Linked DNA regions of Homo sapiens. The protein of the gene in region 1 purifies or fractionates together with the protein of each later gene. This does not show direct contact. Each region holds a gene or a part of one and is shown in the gene's direction. Other genes may lie near its edges. The genes, in order: ACOX1, PKP2, TXNRD2, CNN3, AADAT, PACSIN2 and TMEM171.

Evidence for each region.
Region 2: the proteins of ACOX1 (region 1) and PKP2 purify together in Homo sapiens (co-immunoprecipitation; one large-scale study listed by IntAct). This does not show direct contact.
Region 3: the proteins of ACOX1 (region 1) and TXNRD2 fractionate together in Homo sapiens (co-fractionation; one large-scale study listed by BioGRID). This does not show direct contact.
Region 4: the proteins of ACOX1 (region 1) and CNN3 purify together in Homo sapiens (co-immunoprecipitation; one large-scale study listed by IntAct). This does not show direct contact.
Region 5: the proteins of ACOX1 (region 1) and AADAT fractionate together in Homo sapiens (co-fractionation; one large-scale study listed by BioGRID). This does not show direct contact.
Region 6: the proteins of ACOX1 (region 1) and PACSIN2 fractionate together in Homo sapiens (co-fractionation; one large-scale study listed by BioGRID). This does not show direct contact.
Region 7: the proteins of ACOX1 (region 1) and TMEM171 purify together in Homo sapiens (co-immunoprecipitation; one large-scale study listed by IntAct). This does not show direct contact.

Annotation. Positions count from the first base shown.
Region 1 is NC_000017.11:75,968,920-75,972,984, reverse strand, and holds part of ACOX1 (peroxisomal acyl-coenzyme A oxidase 1), read left to right. Parts: intron 1-4,065. UniProt on the Homo sapiens protein: Involved in the initial and rate-limiting step of peroxisomal beta-oxidation of straight-chain saturated and unsaturated very-long-chain fatty acids.
Region 2 is NC_000012.12:32,875,971-32,880,035, reverse strand, and holds part of PKP2 (plakophilin-2), read left to right. Parts: intron 1-1,003; coding exon 1,004-1,116; intron 1,117-1,492; coding exon 1,493-2,190; intron 2,191-4,065. UniProt on the Homo sapiens protein: A component of desmosome cell-cell junctions which are required for positive regulation of cellular adhesion.
Region 3 is NC_000022.11:19,931,662-19,935,726, reverse strand, and holds part of TXNRD2 (thioredoxin reductase 2, mitochondrial isoform 5 precursor), read left to right. Parts: intron 1-1,996; exon of another isoform or gene 1,997-2,060; intron 2,061-2,200; exon of another isoform or gene 2,201-2,286; coding exon of another isoform or gene 2,287-2,293; intron 2,294-3,173; exon of another isoform or gene 3,174-3,357; coding exon of another isoform or gene 3,358-3,370; intron 3,371-4,065. UniProt on the Homo sapiens protein: Involved in the control of reactive oxygen species levels and the regulation of mitochondrial redox homeostasis. Maintains thioredoxin in a reduced state. May play a role in redox-regulated cell signaling.
Region 4 is NC_000001.11:94,906,219-94,910,283, reverse strand, and holds part of CNN3 (calponin-3), read left to right. Parts: intron 1-4,065. UniProt on the Homo sapiens protein: Thin filament-associated protein that is implicated in the regulation and modulation of smooth muscle contraction. It is capable of binding to actin, calmodulin and tropomyosin. The interaction of calponin with actin inhibits the actomyosin Mg-ATPase activity.
Region 5 is NC_000004.12:170,075,998-170,080,062, reverse strand, and holds part of AADAT (kynurenine/alpha-aminoadipate aminotransferase, mitochondrial), read left to right. Parts: intron 1-1,479; coding exon 1,480-1,554; intron 1,555-4,065. UniProt on the Homo sapiens protein: Transaminase with broad substrate specificity. Has transaminase activity towards aminoadipate, kynurenine, methionine and glutamate. Shows activity also towards tryptophan, aspartate and hydroxykynurenine.
Region 6 is NC_000022.11:42,889,571-42,893,635, reverse strand, and holds part of PACSIN2 (protein kinase C and casein kinase substrate in neurons protein 2), read left to right. Parts: intron 1-22; coding exon 23-179; intron 180-2,453; coding exon 2,454-2,689; intron 2,690-4,065.
Region 7 is NC_000005.10:73,126,785-73,130,849, forward strand, and holds part of TMEM171 (transmembrane protein 171), read left to right. Parts: intron 1-1,605; coding exon 1,606-1,747; intron 1,748-4,065.

The DNA of each region.
Region 1 (4,065 bases):
GGCCATTGGCAGGTTTGAGTGTTTGGAATTTGAACTGCCCAGCCTCATGTCTAATTATCAAAATGGCAGGAGTAAAGAAAGGGAAAGAAAAAGGGATGCAGATATCAGGGAAACATCATTTTGTGTTTGATTGCTGATTTCAGTGTGTGAATTGGTTTAAGGAAAATGTTATTTATTGTCATCTCCATGGGTACTGCAGCTTTCTGGTCATGGTTTGATGTTCCAGACACTTTACTAAACACTCAAGACTTCAACTTCAAGATGGTCAGTACTGAAATTATAAGCCTGAAAGAAAGGTTTGTAAAGGAAGATAAGATTCTTTTTTTTTTTTTTTTTTTTGAGACAGAGTTTTGCTTTTTTTGCCCAGGCTGGAGTGCAATGGCATGATCTCAGCTCACTGCAACCTCCGCCTCTGGGTTCAAGTGACTCTCCTGCCCGAGCCTCCCGAGTAGCTGGAATTACAGGTGCTCACCACCACGCCCGGCTGATTTTGTATTTTTAGTAGAGACGTGGTTTCTCCATGTTGGCCAGGCTGGTCTTTAACTCCTGACCTCAGGTGATCTGTCCACCTTGGCTTCCCAAAGTGCTGGGATTACAGGCTACAGGCGTGAGCCACCGCGCCTGGCTGACAGATCCTTCCTTTTTTTTTTTTTTTTTGGAGACAGAGTCTCACTCTGTCGCCCAGGCTGGAGTGCAGTTGTGCCATCTCGGCTCGGTGCAAGCTCCGCCTCCTGGGTTCACGCCATTCTCCTGCCTCAGCTCCTCAGTAGCTGGGACTACAGGTGCCCGCCACCACGCCCGGCTAATTTTTTGTATTTTAGTAGAGACGGGGTTTCACCGTGTAAGCCAGGATGGTCTTGATCTCCTGACCTCGTGATCTGCCCTCCCAAAGTCCTGGGATTACAAGGCATGAGCCACTGCACCCGGCCTGAGAGATAAGATTCTTTATGTAGTCCTCCTCGCTTGGAGTATCTGTGTGTTTGTGTACATGCATGCGTGGTGTGTGTGTGTGTTGTAATTTTGAAGTAGCTTTGTGGTACAGAACTCTGTTTCAGTATTCATCATTATAGAATTTATTCGACTTAACAGTCATGCTGTTCATAGGAGGCATAAGATGTGAAATAGTCTGAGGCTAATGGATTTGTTAAGTATACCTCTTACCTCTTGTTGGTCTAATGCTTCTGCCTCATTTATAAAGTAATATCACAAATATATATTTGCCCTAATTTTTTTTTTTTTTTTTGAGTCAGAGTCTCATCCTGTGCCCCAGGCTGAAGTGCAGTGGAGTGATCTCAGCTCACTGCAACCTCCACCTCCTGGGTTCAAGGGATTCTCCTGCCTCAGCCTCCTGAGTAGCTGGGATTACAGGCACCTGCCACCATGCCCGGCTAATTTTGTTATTTTTAGTAGAGATGGGGTTTGGCCATTTTGGCCAGGCTGGTCTCAAACTCCTTACCTCAGGTGATCCACCTGTCTCAGCCTCCCAAAGTGCTGGGATTACAGGTGTGAGTCACCACGCCCGGCCTGCCCTAATTTTTGAAAGGAGAGAGGAAGAAAGGAAGACTTGAACTATACTGGTTTGAGGCAAACAGAAGTTGGACAGAGATCCTATATGGCTGTGGGCAAGTTTGCATTTGTTAGAGTTTTCGTTCCCTTATTGCTTTTAGTTTTGGGTATTTTTTTTTTTTTTTTTGAGACAGAGTTTTGCTCTTGTTGCCCAGGCTGGAGTGCAATGGCGCGATCTCGGCTCCCCGCAACCTCCGCCTCCCAGGTTCAAGTGATTCTCCTGCCTCTCCCTCCCTAGTAGCTGGGATTAGAGGCGTGTGCCACCATGCCCGGCTAATTTTGTATTTTCAGTAGAGACGGGGTTTCTCCATGTTGGTCAGGCTGGTCTCGAACTCCCGACCTTAGGTGATCTGCCCGCCTCGGCCTCCCAAAGTGCTGGGATTATAGGCGTGAGCCATCATGCCCAGCTAGTTTTGGGTATTTTCTTGTATTTAAACCAACGTTGTCTTAATCTCTGTGGTTTAGAGAACAGTGTCCTAAGATTAGTCTTTTTTCTTGCTGGAATTTTGCTAATTCATATTGCTGTTCTTGGTTGATGACTGATCTTTTCCTTGGAAATAAGTCAGGTTGGTTAATTTGCATCACGTGACGGTTTTATCTTATATGGAATACACAAAAAGTCAACGTCCAGGAGATCGGCAATAGAGCAGCTTATATAGAATGAGATCTAACTATTTAAATTCTGAGACTTTGGAAAATGGATCAACAGTGAACAGTGATTATCTAACGCGGTCTCACAGAAGTAGCTGTAACTTTGGGTTTGGGATTCTTTCACTTCTGGGTAGCTGCTGAGAAGTGAAGGGGCTCAGAAGTATTCAGGTTCACTCCATGTTCCTTCCAAATCCTAAAATTCAGTCACCTACAGAAAGTCTCAGTCACCAGCATTATCCTTCTTTCTAGAGTGTGTCTTCTTTCCTCTAAGGACACGAAGAAACTCGGATATACACCTGCCCTGTGGGTCTGGGAGCCATAATCAAAGGCAGAGGCCTGAACCTGGGTGATAGGCTCACCTCCCTGGAGTTCTGGGATCAAAGGAACAGCCTGGGGAACTGGGTCCATGTTATCATCCTGACCATATGTTTCTTTAGGCCACAAAACAGGTCGTTTGTTTGCTCTTCACAGATATGTAATCATTTCAAGATGTGGCCATTTCTGGAGATTCTTCTTGCTTTGTTTTCCTTGTTTGCTTGCTTGCTCACTTCCTTCCTTCCTTCCTCTTTTTTTTTTTTTTTTTGAAGGAGTCTCATGTTGCCCAAGCTGGAGTGGTGCAATGGTACAATCTCGGCTCACTGCAACCTCCACCTCCCCCTGGTTGAAGTGATTCTCCTGCCTCAGCCTCCTGAGTAGCTGGGATCACAGGTGTGCACCACCATACCTGGCTAATATTTATATTTTTAGTAGAGACAGGGTTTCACCATGTTGGCCAGGCTGGTCTTGAACTCCTGACCTCAGGCGATCTGCCCACCTCGGCCTCCCAAAGTGCTGGGATTAGAAGTGTAAGCCACTGCACCCGGCCTCTTTCTCGCTCTCTTTCTGTCTTCTTCCCTTCCTCCATTCCTTTCGTTCCTTTCTTTCTTTATTCCTCACCCATGGACTGGGGTCACATTGCCTTGTTTCGTATTACCATCTATTTAGGAATATAGAGATTGTATGATACATAGTTATCCTTGAAGCTGATGCAGTATCCTGGCAAATTGCCATCATTAACACTTAAATATGAAATAATGCACCTTTCTTTGAAACTGGAAAGAGGTAGTAAACTTGATTTTTAAGTCATCAGTCTTTACCGCACTCCGTTGCCCTCTCTCCCTAGGCTTAACAGTCTCCTCTTCCCTCTGCCCAAGTGATTCTCTTCCCTGTTGGACTTCTCATGAGACTTGCTTCCCTGGGGATTTGGGCTAAATTTCACCAATATTAGTGATAATAATATAAACTTTATGAAAGCTGTGTTCTGGCCAGGCACGGTGGCTCACGCCTGTAATCCCAGCACTTTGGGAGGCCAGCGTGGGTGGATCACCTGAGGTCGGGAGTTCGAGACCAGCCTGACCAACATGGAGAAACCCCGTCCGTACTAAAAATACAAAATTACCTGGGTGTGATGGTGCGTGCCTGTAATCCCAGCTACTAGGGAGGCTGAGGCAGGAGAAGCTTTTGAACCTGGGAGGTGGAAGTTGTGGTGAGCTGAGATTGCGCCATTGCGCTCTAGCCTGGGTAACAACAGTGAGACTCCGTCTCAAAAAATAAATAAATAAATAAATAAATAAGACGCTGTATTCTTTGGGGTCATACTTCTGGAATACCTCTCAGAAATGAATTACTATATTGAGGGACATGAGCATTTTAGAGCTTTTGCTGCATAGTTTGAGGCTTTTCCTGAAACACAGAACCAGTTGACAATATATTGAGCAAGCTCTGTACCTGTATTTCCACAGCTCCATCAACGTGGTCACTTTAATTTATTTTGCTACTTTAACATATTTCTTTTTTTTTTTTTTTGAG
Region 2 (4,065 bases), on another chromosome or scaffold:
CTTCCGAATTCCTGCCTTGGGAACAGAGTTCTGTGACTCGGGAAACTGAATTTTATAGTCTCGACCAGCTAAACCAGACAATGAGTCCCAAATTTTTCAGCACTATAACAACCAAACATTTTTAGATTTTTGTGAATTTCCTCTCCCTTCTTTTTCTTTTTTTAAATTCAACTTTCATTTTGAAAACTTTTTTTTTTTTTTTTTGAGACAGAGTTTCACTCTTGTTGCTCAGGCTGTAGTGCAATGGCGCAATCTCAGCTTCACTGCAACCTCCACCTCCTGGGTTCAAGCGATTCTCCTGCCACAGCCTCCCGAATAGTTGGGATTACAGGTGCCTGCCACCACGCACAGCTAATTTTTTGTAGTTTTAGTAGAGAGGGGCTTTCACCATGTTGGCCAGGCTGCTCTTGAATGCCTGACCTCGGGTGATCCACCCACCTCTGCCTCTCAAAGTTCTGGGATTACAGGTGTAAGCCACCGTGCCCAGCCAAAACTTTCTTTTTGAGACAGAGTTTCACTTTTGTTGCCCAGGCTGGAGTGCAATTGTGTGATCTTGGCTCACTGCAACCTCTGTCTCCCGAGTTCAAGTGATTCTCCTGCCTCAGCCTCCTGAGTAGCTGGGATTACAGATGCCCGCCACTATGCCCAGCTAATTTTTGTATGTTTAGTAGAGATGGGTTTCGCCATGTTGGCCAGGCTGGTCTTGAACTCCTGACCTCAGGTGATCCACCTGCCTCTGCCTCCCAGAGTGCTGGGATAAGAGGCGTGCGCCACCACACCCAGCTGAAAAACTTTTGTAGAGAATGTTTTGATAACCTTTGATCACTTGCCATATCCCAGGGTGGTGTGAAACTAGCATTTAAAAACATTAACGTACGTTTAATACTTGTTCTTGGCCTTCATTACTTAAATTTAAAAGTTTAATACATCATTGTTATACAGTCTGTAAATATTAATTAGCCTACTTGTATTCTGAGTTATTTTAATATTTGCTTGATTGCAGGAAATCTTCACCGAACCAGCAGTGTTCCTGAGTATGTCTACAACCTACACTTGGTTGAAAATGATTTTGTTGGAGGCCGTTCCCCTGTTCCTAAAACCTATGACATGCTAAAGGTAGGATATCAAAGAATGTAACCCTAGTGATCAGATTACTACCATGAAAATATTTTCAAACTTCCTAAGATTATTTTTGAGTGTTTACTTTTCCCAAGTATTATCATTTCCTAAATGAGTTTTGAGAAAATTGATATTTATGAGGATACCATGGAAAACTAGGGATGTGAAACATTCTTACATCCTAGTGCAAATAAATATGACTCAAGTCAACCAAGTCTTATTTTCAAAAAGCCTTTACCCAGAAAGGGGCAAACTTCTCGTCATCTGATTCAGAGAAACGGACATGTTGGGTAATAGTCCCAGAGTAATTAGTCCTCAGCAAAGTTGAAATTTGATTTATGCCCCCTTTAAACTTTATTTCTCTCATGTGCAGGCTGGCACAACTGCCACTTATGAAGGTCGCTGGGGAAGAGGAACAGCACAGTACAGCTCCCAGAAGTCCGTGGAAGAAAGGTCCTTGAGGCATCCTCTGAGGAGACTGGAGATTTCTCCTGACAGCAGCCCGGAGAGGGCTCACTACACGCACAGCGATTACCAGTACAGCCAGAGAAGCCAGGCTGGGCACACCCTGCACCACCAAGAAAGCAGGCGGGCCGCCCTCCTAGTGCCACCGAGATATGCTCGTTCCGAGATCGTGGGGGTCAGCCGTGCTGGCACCACAAGCAGGCAGCGCCACTTTGACACATACCACAGACAGTACCAGCATGGCTCTGTTAGCGACACCGTTTTTGACAGCATCCCTGCCAACCCGGCCCTGCTCACGTACCCCAGGCCAGGGACCAGCCGCAGCATGGGCAACCTCTTGGAGAAGGAGAACTACCTGACGGCAGGGCTCACTGTCGGGCAGGTCAGGCCGCTGGTGCCCCTGCAGCCCGTCACTCAGAACAGGGCTTCCAGGTCCTCCTGGCATCAGAGCTCCTTCCACAGCACCCGCACGCTGAGGGAAGCTGGGCCCAGTGTCGCCGTGGATTCCAGCGGGAGGAGAGCGCACTTGACTGTCGGCCAGGCGGCCGCAGGGGGAAGTGGGAATCTGCTCACTGAGAGAAGCACTTTCACTGACTCCCAGCTGGGGTAAGTCCCCTCCTGACTCTGCAGTTCAGTCATTGCCAGCACATTCTGTTCCCACAGCCCTGACAGCATGAGCTGGCACTTCTGGGGCTTGAGAGAAGGGCTTCCAGAGATAAGTGATTAAAATAATGACTTTTCAGGCAGCTGCCTAATTGACAGATCAGCCTATTTACCTCAGGGACAGGGGCCAAGCTACCTGCTCACATGGCAGCTTTGTATGGAAATGTGACATTTAGTCCATCTGTTCCAGATTAGATGCTGGCTGAAGGGACCCTACCCCTCAGCCATATGAAAATCTGCTCTAAACTCCAAAGTAGGCCAAGAATTGGAGAATTGCATGCGTATTTTCTTCATCATCCCATGAAATAAAAGGAAAAAATGCTTATTCTTAGCACGAATGCCATTTGGATAACTATGACTGTAAAAAGAGCTAAGGAAAGATGGCTGACTTCTAGATGTCTTTTTTCTTCCTTTGGTACTTGGTACCTTTTAGATTTCTAGTGTCAGTGATTTGAAGGGGTATTCTTTTGGCAGTATTAAATTATTAAAATAACTGAATTTTTAAGTCATTCCTTTCCATTCCTATTTACTTTATAGCTTGACTAATTTAGTGTTTGGAACTTAACCCTTATTCAAGTTTAATGCCTGATCACAAATTTTATAAACTGTGCACGTTACTAAGAGAAAGATTGAGAAATGGATGGCTGATTAGATCAGTAACTCCTGCAATAATGATCTAACATCATTAGGCTAAAACATTAGATATGTTATTGTCATTTGATTGCTAAAGTTGTCTAATGATAGTTGTTACCTCTAAACATCCCTTCAAGTGAAATTGTACAGCATGCTCACTGACCAGGTAGCATCATTAATAAACTACTTCTCAAAATGATGAGGGCTAATCTAATCTTAACACAGGAAATATTTTTTATGATGTAAAATTCACCATGAGATTTCTAACATTTCTTATAGTAAGCAGACCTTAGGCAATATGAGCATACTTACAAAGAGGAAAAATAAGCCGGGAGCAGTGGCCCAGGCCTGTAATCCCAGCACTTTGGGATGCCCAGGCGAGCGAATCACTTGAGTTTAGGAGTTCAAGACCAGCCTGGGCAACATGATGAAACCCCATATCTACGAGCAATACAAATATTAGCTGGGTGTGGTTGTGTGCACGTGTGGTCCTAACTACTCGAGAGGCTGAGGCGGGAGGATTACTTGAGCCCAGGAGATGGAGGTTGCAGTGAGCCAAGATTTGTGCCACTGCACTCCAGCCTGGGGAACACAGTGAGACCTTGTCTCAAAAAAAAAAAGAGAAAGTGTATCAGGTCATTGTTTATGGAGGAAAAAGCTGATAAAGGCTTTTAAACAGGTAATTCAAAATTTATGGAATGCCTACCATAGCCTAGGATTTGTGATAGCCACAGTTTTAGCAAAATGATTTTAACAGTAACAAAATTATTATCTGACATCCTCCAACAACTGGCATTCTCTCCCTCCATCTCTGTGTCCCTTGCTTCTTGAACCACCCTGTCACTTCCCAGTCTCTCGTCAACCCACTGCAATATGATTTCAGTCCCCTCCATTCCACCTAAACAGTCTCCTGACAAATGTAGCAATGATGGCCTTATCTGCTACATCCTAAGCAGACACTATATTGAGTAATATAAGCACTGCTTATATTACTCAACCTGTGGGTGGTGTTTGAGACACCATGAAATTCTCTCATCCCTTGGTTTTCAGGGCACCAGCTTCCCCTGGTTTTCCACTCACCTCTCCAGCCATTCTTTGTTAGTGTTCTCTGCGTGCTCCCTTTCTGCCTGCTCAAAGAAGGCATCTTCAGTAACCCTTCTATTCCAAGTCTTGATGCTCTTCCAG
Region 3 (4,065 bases), on another chromosome or scaffold:
CTGTAAGTGTCAGCCGGCTGAGAAATGAAGAGAAAGAGTACAAAGAGGAATTTTACAGCTGGGCTGCTGGGGGTGACATCACGTATCGGTAGGACCATGATGCCCACCTGAGCCGCAAAACCAGCAAGTTTTTATTAAGGATTTTAAAAGGGGAGGGGTTGTGCCAATAGGGAGTAGGTCACAAAGATCACATGCTTCAAAGGGCAAAAGGCAGAGCAAAGATCACATGCTTCTGAGGAAACAGGACAAGGGCAAAATCAGAACTCCTGATAAGGGTCTATGTTCAGCTGTGCACATATTGTCTTGATAAACATCTTAAACAACGGAAAACATGGTTTAAGAGCAGAGAACCAGTCTGACCACAAATTTACCAGGACGGAGTTTTTTCCCCACCCTAATAAGCCTGAGGGTACTGCAGGAGACCAGGGCGTATTTCAGTCCTTATCTCAACCGCATAAGACAGACACTCCCAGAGTGGCCGTTTACAGACCTCCCCCCAGGAATGCATTCCTTTTCCAGGGTCTTAATAGTAATATTCCTTGCTAGGAAAAGAATTTAGCGATATCTCTCCTACTTGCACGTCCATTTATAAGCTCTCTGCAAGAAGAAAAATATGGCTCTTTTTGCCTGACCCCACAGGCAGTCAGACCTTATGGTTGTCTTCGTTCCCTAAAAATCACTGTTATTCTGTTCTTTTTCAAGGTGCGCTGATTTCATATTGTTCAAACACACGTTTTACAATCAATTTCTACAGTTAACACAATTATCACAGTGGTCCTGAGGTGATGTATATTATCAGCTTATGAAGATAACAGGATTAAGAGATAAAGACAGGCATAAGAAATTATAAAAGTATTACTTGGGGGCCCAGGCGCGGTGGCTCATGCCTGTAATCCTAGCACTTTGAGAGGCCGAGGCAGCCATATCACAAGGTGAGGAGATCAAGACCATCCTGGCTAACATGGTGAAACCCTGTCTCTCCTGAAAGTACAAAAAATTAGCCAGGTGTGGTGGCGGGTGCCTGTAGTCCCAGCTACTCAGGAGGCTGAGACAGGAGAATGGTGTGAACCCAGGAGGCGGAGCTTGCAGTGAGCTGAGATTGTGCCACTGCACCCCAGCCTGGGCGACAGAGAGAGAATCTGCCTCAAAAAAAAAAAAAAGAAAAAAGTATAAAAGTATTACTTGGGAATTGATAAATGTTCATATTGAAATGAAATCTTCACTATTTATGTTCCTCTGCCACGGCTCCAGCCAGTCCCTCCATTCGGGGTTCCTGACTTCCTGCAACACAGGTGTGAGCCACTGTACCCAGACTAGGGGTGCAGTTTTTTTTTTTTTTTTTTTCTGAGACAGAGTCTCACTCTGTTAACCAGGCTGGAGTGCAGTGGTGCTATCATAGCTCACTGCAGCCTTGAACTCCTGGGTTCAACTCACCCTCCAGCCTCAGCCTCCCTAGTAGCTGGGACTGTGGGCCCTGCAGTTTCTCCTTTTAGAGTAGGAAGACCTGAACTGTCCCAGGCTTGGAGTGGGTGGGCGATGCAGCCCCTGAACAGGAGCCAGAATGACAACACCTGCTGCCAGGAAAGAGCTCTAGATAGAGCAGCCATACAGGAGGGCCCCTGAGGTGGCACCCTGAGGTGGCCAGCCTGCCTGTGGGTGCACATTTTGGGGGACCCTTCCACTTGCCCTCACTGGTGCAGTGCTGCATTCTCTTGGGCCTTGCTATGAGCTCTGGGCTCCTGCTCTTTGCTGGCCTGTACCAGGCAGTGGGTTCAAAGAGGAGCAGAAAATTAATGGACAATATGTCAGAAGGCAGAGGCAAGACAGACACTTGCTGGGGCCAAGCCCTGCAGGTGGAGAGGGTATGCCTGGCTAAAGTGGGTGAAAGGCAAGGTTATGAGGTTCTCCAGGACACTGGAGTGCACAGGTGGTGTGTCCCCAGGTAACGCCTGCCACCCAGCCCTTCCTCCCACAGAACAGCATCTGCCCTACCCACCTTTGAGGTACTTTGGGGTCCTTCCTTCCCAGCAGGCTACCCAAGCCCTTCCAAGTGCTTAAAGGCAGATTTCCTATGCTTGCAAACGACTGCCCTATGCCAGTGTTTATCAGCCCGAGAGGGCTCCTGGGTGTGCACAGGGGGCGAGCAAGCTGCCCAAGATAAGCACATCCATACAGACAGCTGCTCACCCTGCCTGATAGCAGACAGAGGGGGCACAGTGCGAGGCTGCAGGGCAGGATGACCTAACAAGGGCCCTGCTATGGCAACAAGAAGGACAGGCACCTGCCATGGAAGGTAGGGACGTTCTGAGCAAAGCTTCCGGCTACCAGGCAGCTGGAGGAGAGAGATGCTTCTCCATCAGCAGGTTCATGCTCCCCGGGGGACCTGGTGGCATTTTCTCCCTGACCAGCAGTCCTTGGTTCTCTAGACTTATATTAAAGCCATTAGAATAATTTACAACAATTTAGGCCTTTCCAGAGCCCTTGAGTTGAATTAGGAATTGAGTGTGCTTTGGACTGGCTGTTGGAACCGAGTTGTGGCTCTGTCAGTTCCCGCAGGTGCGCACACATCTCACGTGCACTCAGAGGCTGGCTGCCAGGTGAAAGAGTGGGTGGGTTTGGTTGTGGGGCAGGCTCGCTGCAGGCCATGGCCTGAGTGCCTGGATGCAGCTTCCCAAGCTTTCTCAGCTGTGAGCCAGGGCTCCTCTAGGCTCCAGCTCTTGTATCCTTTAGGAGTGCATGTTCTAGACCTGTCTGTGGGGCATCTGCAGGGCCAGGGTGTGGAGAGACATGACACTCCAAGTACACTCTCTGCAGCCTTGCCTGCCTAGGAAGGTGGAGGTGGCTGCAAAGATAAGTGCAGCCTTCTCATGGCAGACGCTAGGCTCTGATGGAGGTGTTGGGCAGGTTGCCCAGCCTTGTATGACAGACCCTGCTCTGATCATGGAACCTCTTGGCCTTGTCTGAAGCAGCGACCGGCTCCAGATGCTCTGGGAGGGTGGTGCTTCTCATCTGGGCAGGCTCGTGTCTGCAGAGGGGCTGAGGGCACTACTTGTTTTATACCCTAGAGTCTTGTCATCAGTCCCCACCCTGCCCTCACCCCAGCAGACTGATGACTTGCTATTATTTCTTCCTTCCTTCAGCAGGGAGTTGGCTGGTGCCTGGTGCTGGGTGTCCCGGACCTCAGGCCCAGTTCAGTGTACTTCCCCTCTCTACTTCCTCCCTCCAGTCCCTTCTCCATCCCTCCCTTTTTTGGCTGCCCCTTGCCTGCCTTCCTCGCCAGTAGCTTGCAGAGTAGACACGATGACACCTTTTGCAGGCTAAAAAGGCTGAGAGTGGCACTATGTGCAGTGAGCCACCATGGAGGACCAAGGTGAGGCGACACCACAACCAGCCCAAAAGGAATTCCAGGGATGAAACCTGAGCCCAGGCAGCTCTCCCTGTGCCCAGGGTGGCTTCCCTCCTAGCTGACTGCAGCTGGGCACACCAAGACCCTGGCTGTGTGCACTGGCCAGCTGTGAGGGACAGGGGCTGCTTGTGCTTTTATTCTTTTTTTTTTTTTTTTTTTTGAGACGGAGTCTCACTCTGTCTCCCAGGCTGGAGTGCAGTGGCGTGGTATCCGCTCACTGCAAGCTCCGCCTCCCGGGTTCACGCCATTCTCCTGCCTCAGCCTCCCGAGTAGCTGGGACTACAGGCGCCCACCACCATGCCCGGCTAATTTTTTTGTATTTTTAGTAGAGACGGGGTTTCACTGTGTTAGCCAGGATGGTCTCGATCTCCTAACCTTGTGATCCACCCGCCTTGGCCTCCAAAAGTGCTGGGATTACAGGCGTGAGCTACCGCCCCTAGCCTGTGCTTTTATTCTTGCTCACTTGTGACGGAGGGCAGCCTTCACAACTGAAAGGCACGTGGACTTGAGAATGTTTTAGTCCACCTTGGTGGCTCATGCTTGTAATTCTAGCACCTTGGGAGGCCAAGGTGGAAGGATTGCTTGAGGCCAGGTGTTTGAGACCAGCCTGGGCAACATAGCCAGACCCCATCTCTACAAAACAAAAAAATTTAGCTGGA
Region 4 (4,065 bases), on another chromosome or scaffold:
TATGAACTAGCCATTTAGATGAAGGACAGAAAGAAGGATTAATGGAGAAAGAAGATGAAAGAAGAATCTAAGGAACACACGGAACACTTGAAAAACAGAAGCTAATGTTGAATACGAGTTTACTTAGAGAGTTTGGAGTAATGCAGGATTATCCTGGTGGCTCAAAACGGGGAGCCACAGCTGAAATTAGGGAGACTGTTGTAATCACTGGGGACAATAACCAGGAATTGTCTGCTTCCAGGTTTGAACAAGCTCTGTGATGATAATACATTGTGAGAAGGAATCCATGTGAAAAACAAGCAGTCTTCATTCTTCAGTAGATTCTGGAATGTCCTGGGTGTAATGGGGGCATCAGACAGTTCTTGTACATGAATGTCATCACTCTACCTCATGGCAGATGTGCCCCCATCTTTTTTTCAAATGGTACTTGAGCTGAATGCTCTCGGCGTACACCGAGAAGTACCATTCAACAGCGCAGGAATCGAGCTTTTGGGTCAGCTGTGGAGGTGCTTTTTGAAGCTAGGTCTCCCTTTACTCTTTCTCCCTTTCTGAGGGTTCTTAGGGGGAAGCTTCTCAAATTTCAGAGCCAGGGAGGGGCATGGCTGTTTCCCAGCAGCTGGTAGGCTTGTATCTGCTCTAGTGTCTGCCTTCACTGTTAGGACACATAGGCCCTCGGGGTTGTGTTTCTGAAGGTGGTCTTAGTCCAGAGCTCTTGGATATATGATTAATAGTGATATGTGATATGTGTGCCTGTGGGCTGGAAGAATAATTGGCTGAAGGATAGGCCCTTCCCTCTGGGAATGGAGTGTGATTTGTGGGGGGAGAGACTTGTACATTTTAGTGTTATCTCAGTGTTTCTTAACCTTGTTTTCATGATCACCTTCTCCAAGAGTTGTTTTAGACATTGTTCCTAGTTACCTCCTATCCCTTGCTAGATTTAGTACAAAGGAATAAGATTTTGTTGGGTAGAGTTGAGCTTTGGAGGGTCCCAAGTTTTTGTATTGTCTTAAGATTTTTTTCACCATTGGTAGAAACCACCACAAGAAACACTTTTCACCTCTTTGGGACACCACCACCCCTGTTGAGAATGCATGCGCTACATACTTGTATATCATTTATTTGTTTATTTTTGTTTTAAAGACAGAGTCTCACTTTGCCACCCAGGCTGTAGTGCAGTGACATGATTATCAGTCACTGCAACCTGGAACTCCTGGCTTCAAGCAATCCTCCTGCCTTGGCCTCCCAAAGTGCTAGGATTACAGGCATGAGCCACCCACCTGGCCTATTTTTTTTTTTTTTTTTTTAAAGAGACGGGCTCCCTATATTGCCCTGGCTGGTCTCGAACTCCTGGGCTCAAGGATTCCTCCTGCCTCAGCCTCCCAAAGTTGCAGGATTACAGGCCTGAGCCACCATGCCTGGCCCAGCCTAATTTTTTTAAAAAAATTATTATTTTGGAATTGGCTGGGCGTAATCCCAGCACTTTGGGAGGCTGAGGTGGGCGGATCACCTGAAGTCAGGAGTTCAAGACCAGCCTGACCAACATGGCGAAACCCCATCTCTACTAAAAATACAAAAATTAGCTGGGTGTGGTGGTGGGCACCTGTAATCCCAACTACTCAGGAGGTTGAGGCAGGAGAATCGCTTGAACCCGGGAGGTGGAGGTTGCAGTGGGCCAAGATCACGCTATGGCACTCCAGCTTGGGTGACAGAGCGAGACTCCGTCTCAAAAAAACAAACAAACAACAACAAAAAACCAATTATTATTTTAGAATTACAAAAGAAAGTGAGGGCTAAAGAAAGGTCATGAAACAAGAAAGGACTGATCTGCATTTGAACTGAAGGGTGACTCCACACTGGTGCTCTTAGCTGTCCTGAGGAGAGAGCCAAGGGAAGCTCTAAGGGCTGAAGCCGCCACCACGACCACAACAGGATGAGCCCTGGACCCAGGCACAGGAACATGAAGAGGAGCAGGTGAAGCTGTCGGAGGAGCGAGAGCAGAGCAGGCCAATCGCTGAATGTAGGGAGGAGGATCAGCTGTATCCTATGCCCTAGGAGGCTTTTTTCTTGGTCTTCATTATCTTCACATGTTGATTGTATCTGGCTAGAGGGATGTTGGAGAGTTTCGGGGAGGAGTCTCCAGCAGGTGTGCCTAGACAGTATTCTCCTCGGTCTCTGGATCATTTGTAAGTGCTCCTTGATGCAAAGAAGGCTGTCAGGCACTGCTTGGAGAATGTGTGCGTGTTTAAGAAAGGAAGGTGGGCATATAAAGAGAGGGGCTGCTGTGGATTTGAAAGAGCCAGGCAGAAAGTCTGCGAAAGCAGCTTGGGAAGGCCAAGAAAATAAATCTTGAAGAAGAATAAAGAAAAGGATGTTTATCAACAACTTGGAAGAGTAATTTTTATTTTATTTTTATTTCTTATTTTTGAGACGGAGTCTTGCTCTGTTGCCCAGGCTGCAGTGCAGTGGCACCATCTCAGCTCACTGCAAGCCCCGCCTCCCGGGTTCACACCATTCTCCTGCCTCAGCCTCCCAAGTAGCTGGGACTACAGGCGCCCGCCACCACACCCGTCTAATTTTTTGTATTTTTAGCAGAGACAGGGTTTCACCGTGTTAGCCAGGATGGTCTTGATCTCCTGACCTCACGATCTGCCCACCTTGGCCTCCCAGAATGCTGGGATTACAGGCGTGAGCCACTGCGCCCTGTCAGGAAGAGTAATTTTTAAGTAAATTAGAGTGAAATTTCCATGAAGTATTAATGAGGTAAGTTTAAGCAATTATTTTAAGCTAACTTTCTTTTGTTGAGAGAAAGAAAATGTCAGCGTTTTTCTGCCAGATGTTGAGAAATTAAAGCTTTTTAGATGAAGATAGTAAATCATTTTTATTGGCCAAAGATTACTTTTTTAAATTGCTCTCAGTTCCTTGATTTTAAAAGATAATGCTGTTTAGCTGGCCTGACTGCATAAAGCTCACTTACTAGAAAAATATTCGAAGTATTTGGATAGGAGAATCCTGTTGCTCCTTTACTTAAAGGAAACCCTTAGCCCACACCAACAGTTATTTGATGTGGCTGCATTCCTAGTCTTAATTTTTAATTGATCATATGGGGCTTTGAGTTTTGCATGCTTGTACATACGAATTTCTTCTGTGCACGTGGTCATATGGTAAGTCTCAAGGACAGCATCACCTGTCCAGAGCTCCCCCCCACAACCACTCATTGGTAGAGCCAGGATTTGAACTGAGGTCCATCTGACTCCAGTGCTTGATTTTTCTATCTCATCACTTCCTTGACAAGAACTGTCAACAGAGAAGGTGAAAACTTCTTACTGGGATCTACTAGGATATTTCAAGTTAGGTCTGTAGTCACTTCGTGGTTTGGGGCATGGCACCAAATCTGTTGGACACATTTTGAACAAAGGATGCATAAATATGCTTTTAATGTTTTTCTGCTTAAATATTAATTGATGTCATTTGGTATGAGAATTACCATCACCATCCTGTGAAATATCCCAAACTACTCTAACATAATTTTTCTCTACATTTGAAGAAACGAGAAAATACTTCTTCAGTTTTTTATTATTTGACCAAATTGTGTAGATAGCTGAGAGTAGGAACGGACCTAGTGCAGGCATCCAGTTTAGACTTCCTCTTGGATCGAGAGAAGTTAGAGGAACTAACCCAGGCCCATAGCAAAGATAGATGGAGCCAGGCATGGCGCCAAGGCAGAACTCCTCTCACCCTAGCATATTATGTTTTTCTTCAGATTGATCAAAATATATCTCCTAGTTGAGAACGCCCTCACTTTTGGGGAAAAAAAAAATCACCTTACAATTAGTATTTGCTTTCCATAGTTAATGCTTGAGGAGTACTCTTTTCTCCTTTTCTTCTTTGCCTATCCCCTTTCATACCACCACCTCCAGTTTATATAGTGAGAATTTATTTTTCTAGGCACCCAGAACAAGACCCCAGTGTAAAAATATAGTCAAGACTTAAACGTGTCTATCGGCTGGACGCAGTGGCTCACGCCTTTAATCTCAGCACTTTGGGAGGCCGAGGCAGGCGGATCAC
Region 5 (4,065 bases), on another chromosome or scaffold:
TCTAGCTCTCTCAGTAGCATGTTGTGTGGTTCTCCTCCAGCCCACTTTCCCTCCCTTCCTTGCAGTGTCCTCCTCTACCCAGCCATTATTTATTGGAGTTCCCTGTAGCTCAGTCCTTAAACATCTCTCCTTAGTCTATGTACTTTTCCTGGGTATCTTCATTTACATTCACATGATCAACCATATGCCAGTAACTTCCAGGCTCCTTCCAAATCCATTTGTCCATCTATCCATCTGACATCATCACAGGGTGTTTCAAAGGCACCTCACACTAAAACAAATCATCCTGTCACTCAGATATGGATGGCTTTTTGGTTATGTGTTTCAGTGAATGGCACCACCCCCACCATCTATCTAGTTCCATAACCAAGTATCTAGGCATCATTCTTGACACCTCCTCTTCCTCATTTCCCTATTGTCCATAATCATGTTCCATTACTTTTCATTTCCTAATACCTCTCAGTTCTTCTCTACAATTCCTCTGTCACCACTCTACTTTAAGATGACCCTTACCTGTTCCAGGCCTGTGGCAGTAACTTCCCAAACAATCCTAAAAACTTTCTAAACTTTCCACATGTATTCTCACCCTTCTTTCATTCTTTCATACTGCAGCCAGATTGATCTTTTCAAGACGAGTATCTAATCATGTGACTCCTCCTCCCCACTCTCTTCCTAAAATCCTTACTTGCCTCCCTTGGCTCAAATGCCTACATGGTTGGTCTCTGCCCACTTCTGTCTGATGTCACACCACTCTTTTCTCTACATTCTGCCTCAAGACACATAATTATTTTGGTTTTTCAAATCTAACTGTTGTTACCCCGTACACCAACTCATCGCTTCCTCCAGGATGCCTTCCCTGAATTCCCTGAATGCCTAGGTCTTCCTACAATGAGCTCTTATGTCATTGTGCATCTGTACTTAATATCACTCACCACCGTTTTTAATTTGCACATTTATTGGGTAGTTATTTAATTGGTGTCTAGCTTTCCCAGTGGACCAGTAGCTCCATGAGAGTAAGAACCATGTCATTTTGCTATTTTATCTCTGACACTTTACACAGGCCTGGCGTATAGTAAACATTTAATAGATTTTCAAAGAAGCAATAAAAGGAATAAATGAATGTTAGCAGCCAAACCTCTGTTCACCTTTCTCTGGAACAGGAGTTGGCAAACTATGGTTTGAGAGCCAAATCCAGCCCTTCATCAAATTTTGTAAATAAAGTTTTATTGGAACTCAGTCACACCCATTCATTTATATATTGTCTATGGCTACTTTTTCACTATAGAGGCAGAGTAGTTGCAGGGTAGTTGCAACAGAGATACTATGACCCGCAAAGTGTTTACTGTTTGGCCCCTTATAAACAATTTGCTAATTCTTACTCTAGAACCATGTGAGCTCAAACTAAAAAATGGGCTTCTGAGCATGGAAACAGTACTAACCTATGCTGACTAACAAGCTAACCTATGCTTCTTTTGTTAGGTGTTTGAAATGATCATTAATCCTGGAGATAATGTCCTCCTAGATGAACCTGCTTATTCAGGAACTCTTCAAAGTGTGAGTATACATTTTTACTAAAGGCAACTCTCTTGTAGTAAATAAGAAGAAAACTTATAATAAAGGTTTTATAATAACTTTATTATAATAAAGTTAATATCTTATTAACTTTAAAATAATCTGTCCACAGAAAAATGAAATAGCATATTTTATCCATAAGCAGGATAATCTTAAAGGATATATACAAAGTATGTGAAATGTATTCTCTTCTTTATACATTTCTTTTTTGAAATCCAAGTGTATAGGCATTAAAATTAGATTATGCAAAATCATGTCCAATTCTCTTAATATTTTACTTGAAATGTAACTTAAATTACAAAAATTTATTTTTTATTACTATCTTATTACCATATGCATAAGTACAACTATGTTATATGTCAGTTTAGTATACTTATATGGTATAATGACGACTTTCCATTCCAAGGTTAGATCCGTGGAACTGTGATTTACAGAATGAGGAAGCTGATGATCTGACTCTGCTCTGCACTGGTCAGAGCACATTGCTGAGCATTAGGTTTGTTTGGGGCAGTCTACTTTAAGACAGAAATGTCCACAACTGGAGCATACTCAGAGAAAGATAGTCAGAGTAAATAGGGAATTGGAAGCCATATCATATGATGAATGGTTGTAGGAACTGGAGCTATTTTCCCCAGAAAGAAAAGACTCAACAGAGGCATGAAAACTGTCCTCAAATACATAGAAGTTAGCCATGTGACAAAAGAATTAGATTTATTTGTACATGACCTTAGGTTAATAGAACTGGAACCACAGGGAAACAATTTCAGCTCTGTATAAGAACTTGCTAACCATTGGCCTTACCGGACTTCATAATGGGTTACAACATTGCCCATCACTGTAGGTGCTCAGTCACTCTTGACTGCCACCTAACACAAATATGGCTAAAGTAATTCTAGCTTAGAGTAGGGGAATTCAATGCGATGACTTTTATGCTCTATTGATTCCAACTTCATGGATCCTTTTATTTTTTTCAAATTTTATTTTATTTTTATGAAAATCAACATATAAAGCAATATATAAAACAATTCCATTTGTAATAGCATCCAAAAGAATAAAATACGTAGGAATAAATCTAACAAAGGAGGTGGAAGACTTGTACATTAAAAACTGAAAAATTTTGCTGAAAGAAATTAAGCAAAACTCAAATAAATGGAAAGACTTCCACAGTTCATAGATTGGAAGACTTAATATTGTTAAGATATTAATACTACCCTAAGCAATTTACAGATTCAATACAATCCCTATCGATATGCCAACAGCCTTTTTTGTAGAAATGGAAAAGCCAGTCCTCAAATTGATGTGAGTTTAAAGGACCTAAATAGCCAAAATAATCTTGAAAAAGAACAAATTTGGAAGACCCCCACTTCCCAATTTCAAAACTGCAAAGCTGCAGTAATCAAACAATGTGGTACTGGCATAAAGACAATCATATAGACCAATAGAATAGAACTGAGCATCCAGAAATAAACCCACAAATCCAGTTGATTTCAGTAAGGGTGCCAAGATCATTCAGTGGGGGAAAGGATAGTCTCTTCAACTGTGGTGCTGGGACAACTGGATTTCCACATGCATATAAAAGAACTTGGACCCTTACTTCACACCATATGAAAATTTAACTCAAAATGGATCAAAGACCTAAATATAAGGGCTAAAACTACAAACACTTAGGACATAAGGGCAAATTTTTATGACCTTAGATTTGGTGGATTTTTTAGATATGACCAAAAATATGAGCAACGACAACCACAAAAATAGATAAATTGAACTTGAAGATTTAAAAGTGGTTGTGTATCAAAGGACATTATGAAAACAGTGAAAAAAGAGTCTATACAGTGGGAGAAAATATTTATCATAATATATCTGATAAACCTTTAATAACCAGAACATATAAAGAACTCCTACAACTCAACAACAGAAAGATAAACAACCCAATTTAAAAATGGACAAAGGACTTAAATAGACATTAGTCTGAAGAACATGTGCAGAAGGCCAATAAGCACATAAAAGATGCTCAACATCATTAGTAGAGAAATGCAAAGCAACATAAATCAACGTATGAAAGCCGCAAGTTCCATGATCGTGTAGTGGTTAGTACTCTACAATGTGTGACTGCTGTACCTGCAGTCTGATTATTTGGCAAGACTCAGGCTTGGGGAAAAAATTTTTTTAAATAGAGAAAAGCAAATCAAAACTACTGTGAGATACTACCTCACACATACCACGATGGCTATTATTTAAAAAAAAATAGTGAATATGTGAAGAAACTGGGTTCATTCACTGCTGGTGGAAGGAAATGTAAAATGGTATGGCCACTGTGGGAAAGTTTGTCAGTTCCTCAGAAAATTAAAATATAATTACCATGTGACCCACAATTCCACTCATGGCTATATACCCAGAAAGGATTGAAAACTGGGACTCAAACAGATACTTGTATACAAATGTTCATTGCAATATTATTTACAGTAGCCAAAAGGTAGAAGCAACTCAAGTGTC
Region 6 (4,065 bases), on another chromosome or scaffold:
CCCAGCTGGTTCTCTCTCCTAGGTCGGGAACTACAAGCGGACTGTGAAGCGGATCGACGATGGCCACCGCCTGTGCAGCGACCTCATGAACTGCCTGCATGAGCGGGCGCGCATCGAGAAGGCGTATGCGCAGCAGCTCACTGAGTGGGCCCGGCGCTGGAGGCAGCTCGTGGAGAAAGGTATGGGGCCCCGGCACAGGTCCTGTGGCCTGGAGGCAGCTACACCCCAGCCGGGGGCTCTGGGCACGTTGTGACCCTCTCTATGCCAGTTTTCTGTCTTTTAAGATTGGGGCAAGAGTGCATTTCCCAGTTCCAGAGCGGGGTGTGATTTTTATGGGGAGCATTAGCGCCCATCACCAGAAGGCACAGGCTCCATGAGCTTTTGTCCACTTTCCTTGGGGACACAGGACTATAGCCCTTGTCATCCATAGGACACACTTGCACTTGCCGAGTTAACTCAGAACTCGGGTAAGTTCCTATCACGTGGAAGGCCTTGCCGCTTGGCACCTTAGTTTCTAACACTGAGAGCTGTTTATTTTTAAACTTGGCCATGTAGCAGGTCAGATAAGACTAGCTGGCAACACCTGGCAGTCTTTCTGAGTTTACATTTTAAGGGAATAATTACAGGTGTTGTATGGCAGAGGTTTCACCCCCTTCTGTCCCCACCGAAAAGCTCAGAAGATTCTGTAGCTTTATTAGTGCCACTGTTGTGTGGACAGGGGCCATGCTTAGAACACACTTCCCAGCAGGGAAGGGGAACTTGACTGATTACAGCCTTTCCGGCACAGAAGCAGAGCAGTGTGGGTTTCTCAAGGTGTGTTTTGGGGCAGGCTTTCCTGTGCTGACCAGCTGTCCTCAGCCCCAGCTGTCCTCAGCCAATCAGGGGAGCCAGGTCCCAAGCAAGCCAGGTCTAGTCCAGCTGCCTGTCCTTTCCCGTGATGCTGACATGGGTTGTTTGTGTGGGCTTAGCACAGTCCTTAGGGCAGGGTATGTGCCCAGGCTGTGGAGCAGGCACGTGGCAGAGGAGGGGCCTAGGATAGGTCAGCTCCCTTGGTCGGTGGCAGTGTCGTCATTTCGTTTCCACCTGCTGCAGCCCCTCTCCCAGGATCAAGCTGTCAGTCAGAGCTTGAGGTTTACAGAGCACCCTTACCACCCTCACCTTGTGGGTCTGGCTGTAACGTTGTGGACAGGACAGGAATGTGCTCATTTTGTAGACACGAAGGCACAGAGAGGTCCAACTTCCGGGGCTGTTCTCTGTTGTCTCCAAGCCCCAGAGTCACGTGTCCCCCTCTGGGTTCTCACAGCCTGCCCTCCCCTCAGCCCACCTCTGTCATGACTCAGCGCACTTGGTCACTGTCCCTGTGACCACCTTGAAGACCAGCCATGGATCTTCTCGATTTCTGCCCCGGCTCCGTTGTGGCTCTCCCTCCCTCCAGCCTCACGCCACCCCACCCTACCCCCTGAATAGAAATGCCAGCCTGGATTAGGGCTTCCTTCCTGAGCCTCGGGGACTGAGAACAGTGAGTAGGGAGAGGCGACTCAGCCCCTCCTGCCATACTGGTCCAGAGCAGGCTCCTGCTTCCTCCTCTCCTTCCTCCTGCAGGATGGGCTTCCATTCTGCTGAGGGGACAGTCCTCATTCCACAGTGTTCTCAAGCTTGTGCTCAGAGCCAGGCTCTTTCTGGGAGTGAATGAACACAGTCCTGCAGAGGAAGGCAGTGCAGGGCTAGCCAGGGGCCAAGCAGGGCTGATAGGAGCCATGCCAGGAGAAGCGTTGGCATGGTGTGGGTGGGTGCCCAACACCTGGGAGAAGCATCTGCTCACTTCAGAAGGTCCCCCCTTCTCTGGCCACCTTTAAGTAAATTAAGACTTCTAAGATGTGGAAATTTGAGTTTTTATAGAGTTCAGTGGCTTTAAATAAAGGAAAGGCATGGCCGGGCGCGGTGGCTCACGCCTGTAATCCCTGCACTTTGGGAGGCCGAGGCGAATGGATCACCTGAGGTCAGGAGTTCGAGATCAGCCAGCCTGGCCAACATGGTGAAACCCCGTCTCTACTAAAAATACAAAAATTTAGCCAGGCGTGGTGGCGGGCACCTGTAATCCCAGCTACTCGGGAGGCTGAGGCAGGAGAATCTCTTGAACCTGGGAGACAGAGTTTGCAGTGAGCCAAGATCACGTCTCTGCACTCCAGCCGGGACAATAAGAGCGAAACTCCATCCCAAAAATAAAAATAAAGGAAAGGCATGTAATCCCCCAATTTTCCTAACACGAGGGGCAGAGCAAATTCAGCTTTGGGAACTGAAAAAGGCACAGAGTCCCTGAGAGAAAAATATCTGAAACCCTGAAAGGAAACCCTCTGTGGTCTAAATGGCCACATTGAACAGCCGAGGTGTGAGCAGAGCAGACCCCACCATGGCCGGCGCTGAGTGACCCGCAGCTTCTCTCCCCTGCACAGGGCCCCAGTACGGGACCGTGGAGAAGGCCTGGATGGCCTTCATGTCCGAGGCAGAGAGGGTGAGCGAGCTGCACCTCGAGGTGAAGGCCTCACTGATGAACGATGACTTCGAGAAGATCAAGAACTGGCAGAAGGAAGCCTTTCACAAGCAGATGATGGGCGGCTTCAAGGAGACCAAGGAAGCTGAGGACGGCTTTCGGAAGGCACAGAAGCCCTGGGCCAAGAAGCTGAAAGAGGTACATCTGTCCTGCAGGCTTCCCTGCCCGGCCTTGCTCTGCCTGGCACCCCACTAGCAGCACCACCTCCTGCACCTAGGACTTCCTGCCACTGGCTGTAGGCACAGGAGGCCAGACCTGGTAGAGATGAAGCCACTCCTCAGGCTAGAAGCCCATGGTAGTTGACATTTACCCAGGTTGAAGATGCTGAATGCTCTATGTGCATTCTTTAAATTTTTTATTTTTATTTTTTGAGACAAAGTCTCACTCTCTCTCCCAGGCTGGAGTGCAGTGGTGCAATCTCAGCTCACTGCAACCTGTGCCTCCTGGGTTCAAGCAATTCTGCCTCAGCCCTCCGAGTAGCTGGGACTACCGGCACATGCCACCACACCCTGCTAATTTTTGTATTTTTAGTAGAGACGGGGTTTCACCATGTTGGCCAGGCTGGTCTCGAACTCTTGACCTCAGGTGATCCACCCACCTTGGCCTCCCAAAGTGCTGGAATTACAGGGCATTCTTTAAATTTGATCCTACCAACACATTTTACAGATTTGGTAACTGAGGATCAGAACCATACATTGGTGGTAGAGCTCAAAGCCCAAGCTCTTAACCACTAACAGTACTTCTCCCAACCCTGGGGAAGTGTCTGCTGGAGACTTAAAAGTCCTTGCCGGGCGCGGTGGCTCACGCCTGTAATCCCAGCACTTTGGGAGGCTGAGGCAGGCGGATCACGAGGTCAGGAGATTGAGACCATCCTGGCCAACATGATGAAACCCCATCTCTACTAAAAGTACAAAAATTAGCAGGGCGTGGTGGCGGGCACCTGTAGTTCCAGCTACTCAGGAGGCTGAGGGAGGAGAATCACTTGAACCCAGGAGGTGGAAGTTGCAGTGAGCTGAGATCACGCCACTGCACTCCAGCCTGGTGACAGAGGGAGACTCTGTCTCAAAAAAAAAAAAAAAAGTCCCTTTGGCTGCTCTGCGTGTGCAGTAGCCTTTCTTTATTCCTTTACTTTCTCAATAAACTTGCTTTCACTTTATTTTTTTTTCAAGTCCCTTTGACGATAGAAAGAACTAGTTTACATTTTTCTTTCTCTTGCATAGGTTTTTATCCCAAAATTTCAAACATTGATACCTGTTTTTCTAAAAGTAGCAACCAAAGCCATTGAGTTTTGTCGAGCCTTGGCTAGTTGGAGGCTGTCATCTGTCCACCCCAGCCCTCAGCTTGTGTGCCCCGCCCCTGCCTGCAGCCTCGCCCCCCATTCCTAGCTGGAATGGAGTAGACGGTAGATGTGCCACCCCCAACACCCAGATGTTCTCTGGCCTTGCGCTGCCTTCCTCCGCCTCAGAATCATCCAGAACATGCCTCTGTCCTTCCGGATGGTTTTCTCTGTGTCT
Region 7 (4,065 bases), on another chromosome or scaffold:
GAAGTAAAGCCCCATCTTCTTCATTTTTTCTGAACTGTTATTGCTATTGCCAGCTTCTCAGAGGCTTTCACCAGGCCCCCAGCAGTGGTGCTGCCAGAGCTCTACACTGTTCTGGTCCACTTGTGTGGTGCATTTTATATTGGAATCGGAATACAAATTAGAGTTTGCATCTGGTCCCTAGTTTCTCCTCAAAACATGAGGATGTATTCTGGAGTGAACAGTAGCCACAGAAATGCAAAAACCAAACTTCTTTGGGTTCAACCTTCATCTGTATGGGTGAAATTTTGGTAAATAACAGTTAGGGGCTGTAATATGGCTTACTGTCATTTGCTCAGGGGCTGAAACTACATTTGAGGAACAAGGCACTTTAGCCAACAGCTAACTTGTGAATTAAAGTTGTAGGCTGAAAACGAGAAAAGCTTTTTCAGCAGTAGACACCCCAGAGGAGGGAAAGGAGCTTGTTAGCAAACAATTCACAAAAAGGCTTGGTCTTAGACTTGCTACAAAATATAGACCTGCTTTCATACCATAATTGTCAGCACTCTGGATTCTGAAATGTAGGCCTACTTTTAAAAAATTTGTGGTAAAAAAAAAAAAAAAATATATATATATATATATATATAAAGCATAAACAATTTAAACTGCTTTTTGTTTCGTTTTGTTTTGTTTTGAAACAGAATCTCACTCTGTCACCCAGGCTGGAGTGCAGTGGCATGATCCTGGCTCACCACAACCTCTGCCTCCCGGGTTCAAGCAATTCTCCTGCCTCAGCCTCCCGAATAGCTGGGATTACAGGCGCCTGCCACCACGCCTGCCTGATTGTTTTTTCTTTGTATTTTTAGTAGAGACAGGGTTTCGCCGTGTTGGCCAGGCTGGTCTTGAACTCCTGACCTCAAGTGATCCACCCGCTTCGGCCTTCCAAAATGCTGGGATTACAGGCGTGAGCCACCACGCCTGGCTTTTTTTTTTTTTTTAAGACAGGGTCTTGCTCTGTCACCCAGGCTGGAGTGCAGTGGTACAATCATAGTTCACTGCAGCCTAGAACTCCTGGGCTCAAGCAGTCCTCCTATCTCAGCCTTCCGAGTAGCTGGGACTGCAGGCGTGTACTCCCACATCTGGCTAAATTTTTTCTTTTAATTTTTTTGAGATGAGATAGCGCTGTGTTGCCCAGGCTGGTCTCCAACTCCTGGGCTCAAGCGATCCTTCCTCCTCAGCTTCCCGAAGTGGTGGGATTATAGGTGTGAGCCACTGCACCCAGCCAAACCGTTTTTAAATGGTTTAGTGGCATTGAATACAGTCACAATGTTGTTCAACCATTATCATCATCAATTTCTGGAACTCTTCCATTATCCCCAACAGCAACTCTGTACTCACCAAACAGCAATTCCCACTCCCTTCCTCCTCCCGAACCCCTCCTAGCCCCTGGTAACCTAGTCTACTTTTCTATCTCTATACATTTAATGGGCTTACTTTTAAATTTTGGAGTTAGCAGCAGGTGTGTTGACCTTTTATATAGATGGGCCAAATATATAATTAATTTTGCTTTTGCTAATTTGCTTCCATTTATTACCCACCTGTTGTCAACTAAATATTGTTTTGCCTTAGGTGACTCGGTAATAATATTTCCACCCCCTCCACCACCTTACTTTCCTGAATCTTCAGCTTCTGCGGTCGCTGAGAGTCCTGGAACTAACAGTCTGCTTCCGAATGAAAACCCCCCTTCATATTACAGTATTTTCAACTATGGGTAAGAATTTCAATTTGAACTTCAAGAGAGGCCTGAATTCAGGCCACACTAGTATTAAGGCTGTGTGGTTCACCAGGAGGCATTCAAGTGTGAGTATCTTTTTTGCTGATGTTATGTCAGAATTAGTGTCTTGATATTAACAGTACCTTTGCCGAAATTTGGGCAGCACATAAGTTAAAAATGATAAAGTGATCATGCTGGGTTAATATGAAGCCTACTCCAGGCATCTATCTTTATGTGCTCCTAACAGGGGTGATACTCAGAATGTTTAACAACCCTTGCCGGGTGCTGTGGCTCACACCTGTAATCCCAGCATTTTGAGAGGCCAAGGTGAGTGGATCACTTGAGCTTAGGAGTTTGAGACCAGCCTGGCCAACGTGGCAAAACCCTGTCTCTACGAAAAATAGAAGAATTAGCTGGGGATGGTGGTAGGCACCTGTAATCCTAGCTACTCGGGAGGCTGAGGCATGAGGATCGATTGAACGCAAGAGACAGAGGTTGCAGTGAGCCTGTTACCGGCGGAGGGTGTCCACGTACTTTGTGTTTTGAACAAAGAACTGGACAAAATGCACAAACGAAGCAAGGAAAGAATGAAGCAACAAAAGCAAAATTTTATTGAAAATGGAAGTACACTCCACAGGGTGGGAGCAAGCCTGAACAGCTGCTCAAGGGCCCAGTTCCAGAATCTTCTTGGGTCCAAATCACCCCTAGAGGTTTCCCATTGGCCACTTTGTGTTCACCTCATGTAAATGAAGTGGTGGCCCACAATCCGTCTGATTGGTTGCAGAAAGCAGCCAATCAGAGGCTGAAGTGAAGTTACAAAGTTGTTGTCCTATGCAAATGTCTGATTGGTTGCAAAAAGCAACCAATTAGAGGCACTTTCAATTTCCCATCTGCCGAAAGGTGGGTGTTTGCAAAGGGAGTAGTCTTTGGTCCTTTTGTTACTCAGGGGTGGAAAGTTAGGGTTTTCCTTTCAATTTAGTTCTAGGAAGTCAGCGTGAAACGGCCGTAGATTCCCTGCCTCCACACCCTATTCTTCTGCTCCAAGCCGAGATCGCGCCACTGCACTCCAGCCTGGGCAACAGAGAGAGACTCTATCTCAGGGGGAAAAAAAAGAATGTTTAATGACCCACCAATCAGACTGAGCACCAGGACTGGGCCAGGAGGCCCCTGCTATGCTAGGCTTCACTGCTTTAGATCATGGAGAGGTGTGAGGGTCTCAGGGGATCCCCAACAGTTACAGAAGGGCTTTAGTACTCTGATGGCCGTGCTTGGGTGACTGGCTAAAGTCAGCCTGAGCCCCGATCCAACACAACTGGGCCTCTCCTTCAATATTCGCTCCTTCCCTGGGCCGCAGAGAATATCAGGTCAATACCCACCCCACACAGAATGCAGCGAGGCAGGCTCTAGTGGGACGGGCCTGAGGTGCCAGGAGCCTGGGGGAGGGGGTCTGGATGGAGAATGACATTGAGGAAGAGGCGAAGATGATGAGTTCCAGGGTGAGTGACAGGGAAGCTCAGAGGTCCCCAACTGAGAAGACGTGAGTGATGAGCTTGGTTTCGGTGGGGAAAGGATGGTGGGCGGCTGATGGTGGCGGTACAGTGAGATGAGGGCCTTGGAGGCAGACTGGGAAGGGCTGGGTTTTGGGAGAGAGAGGAGGTGATGGAGATGGAGCTGCAGAGGTTGTTGGAGAACCAGAAGGGCAAAGAGTCAGGGACTAGTGGGAGACCCCCAGGAGGGGCTTGTGCATACCCCAGAAATGGTGTGCTCAGGGAGCAGGGCTGGAGAAGGCTCTGGTGGTACCTTCTAGAATGGGAAACCAGGGTTTAGGAAGGGAAGGAAGAATTGCTTCACATTGTCACAGGGTGAAGCAGGTAAGACAATGAGATATGTGCATTTTTGCATGCAGTGAGCAGCAGGCACAGAGAGACTGGTGCTCATTGCTGGGGATAGCACCACCTTACCTTGTTATTCGTGTTTAAGGAACTCCCTCTCCACCCTGCCTTGACAGAGCAGGCAGTGGGCCTTGGAGCAGGGGCCAGGGTGCCTTTTCTCTGGGGCCTGGAGGGAATGAAGTTGTGTAGAGATTCTTTTCCCACAAAAGCAGGGGGACAGGTTATCTGATGGGAGAGGGAAAGAGGTGGCTGACAAGGACAGAATTGGCTTTACAGCTTCATATGGGGTCGTGATGGGGGGATCCAGGGAGGTGCATGTGGGAACGGCCCTGCATGGAGAAAGGGCAGGCTAGGGCTGGACCTCTGTAGAATTCTCATCGTGAATGTTTGTATTTTTTTTCTTCTAATGATAAACTTCCCCAA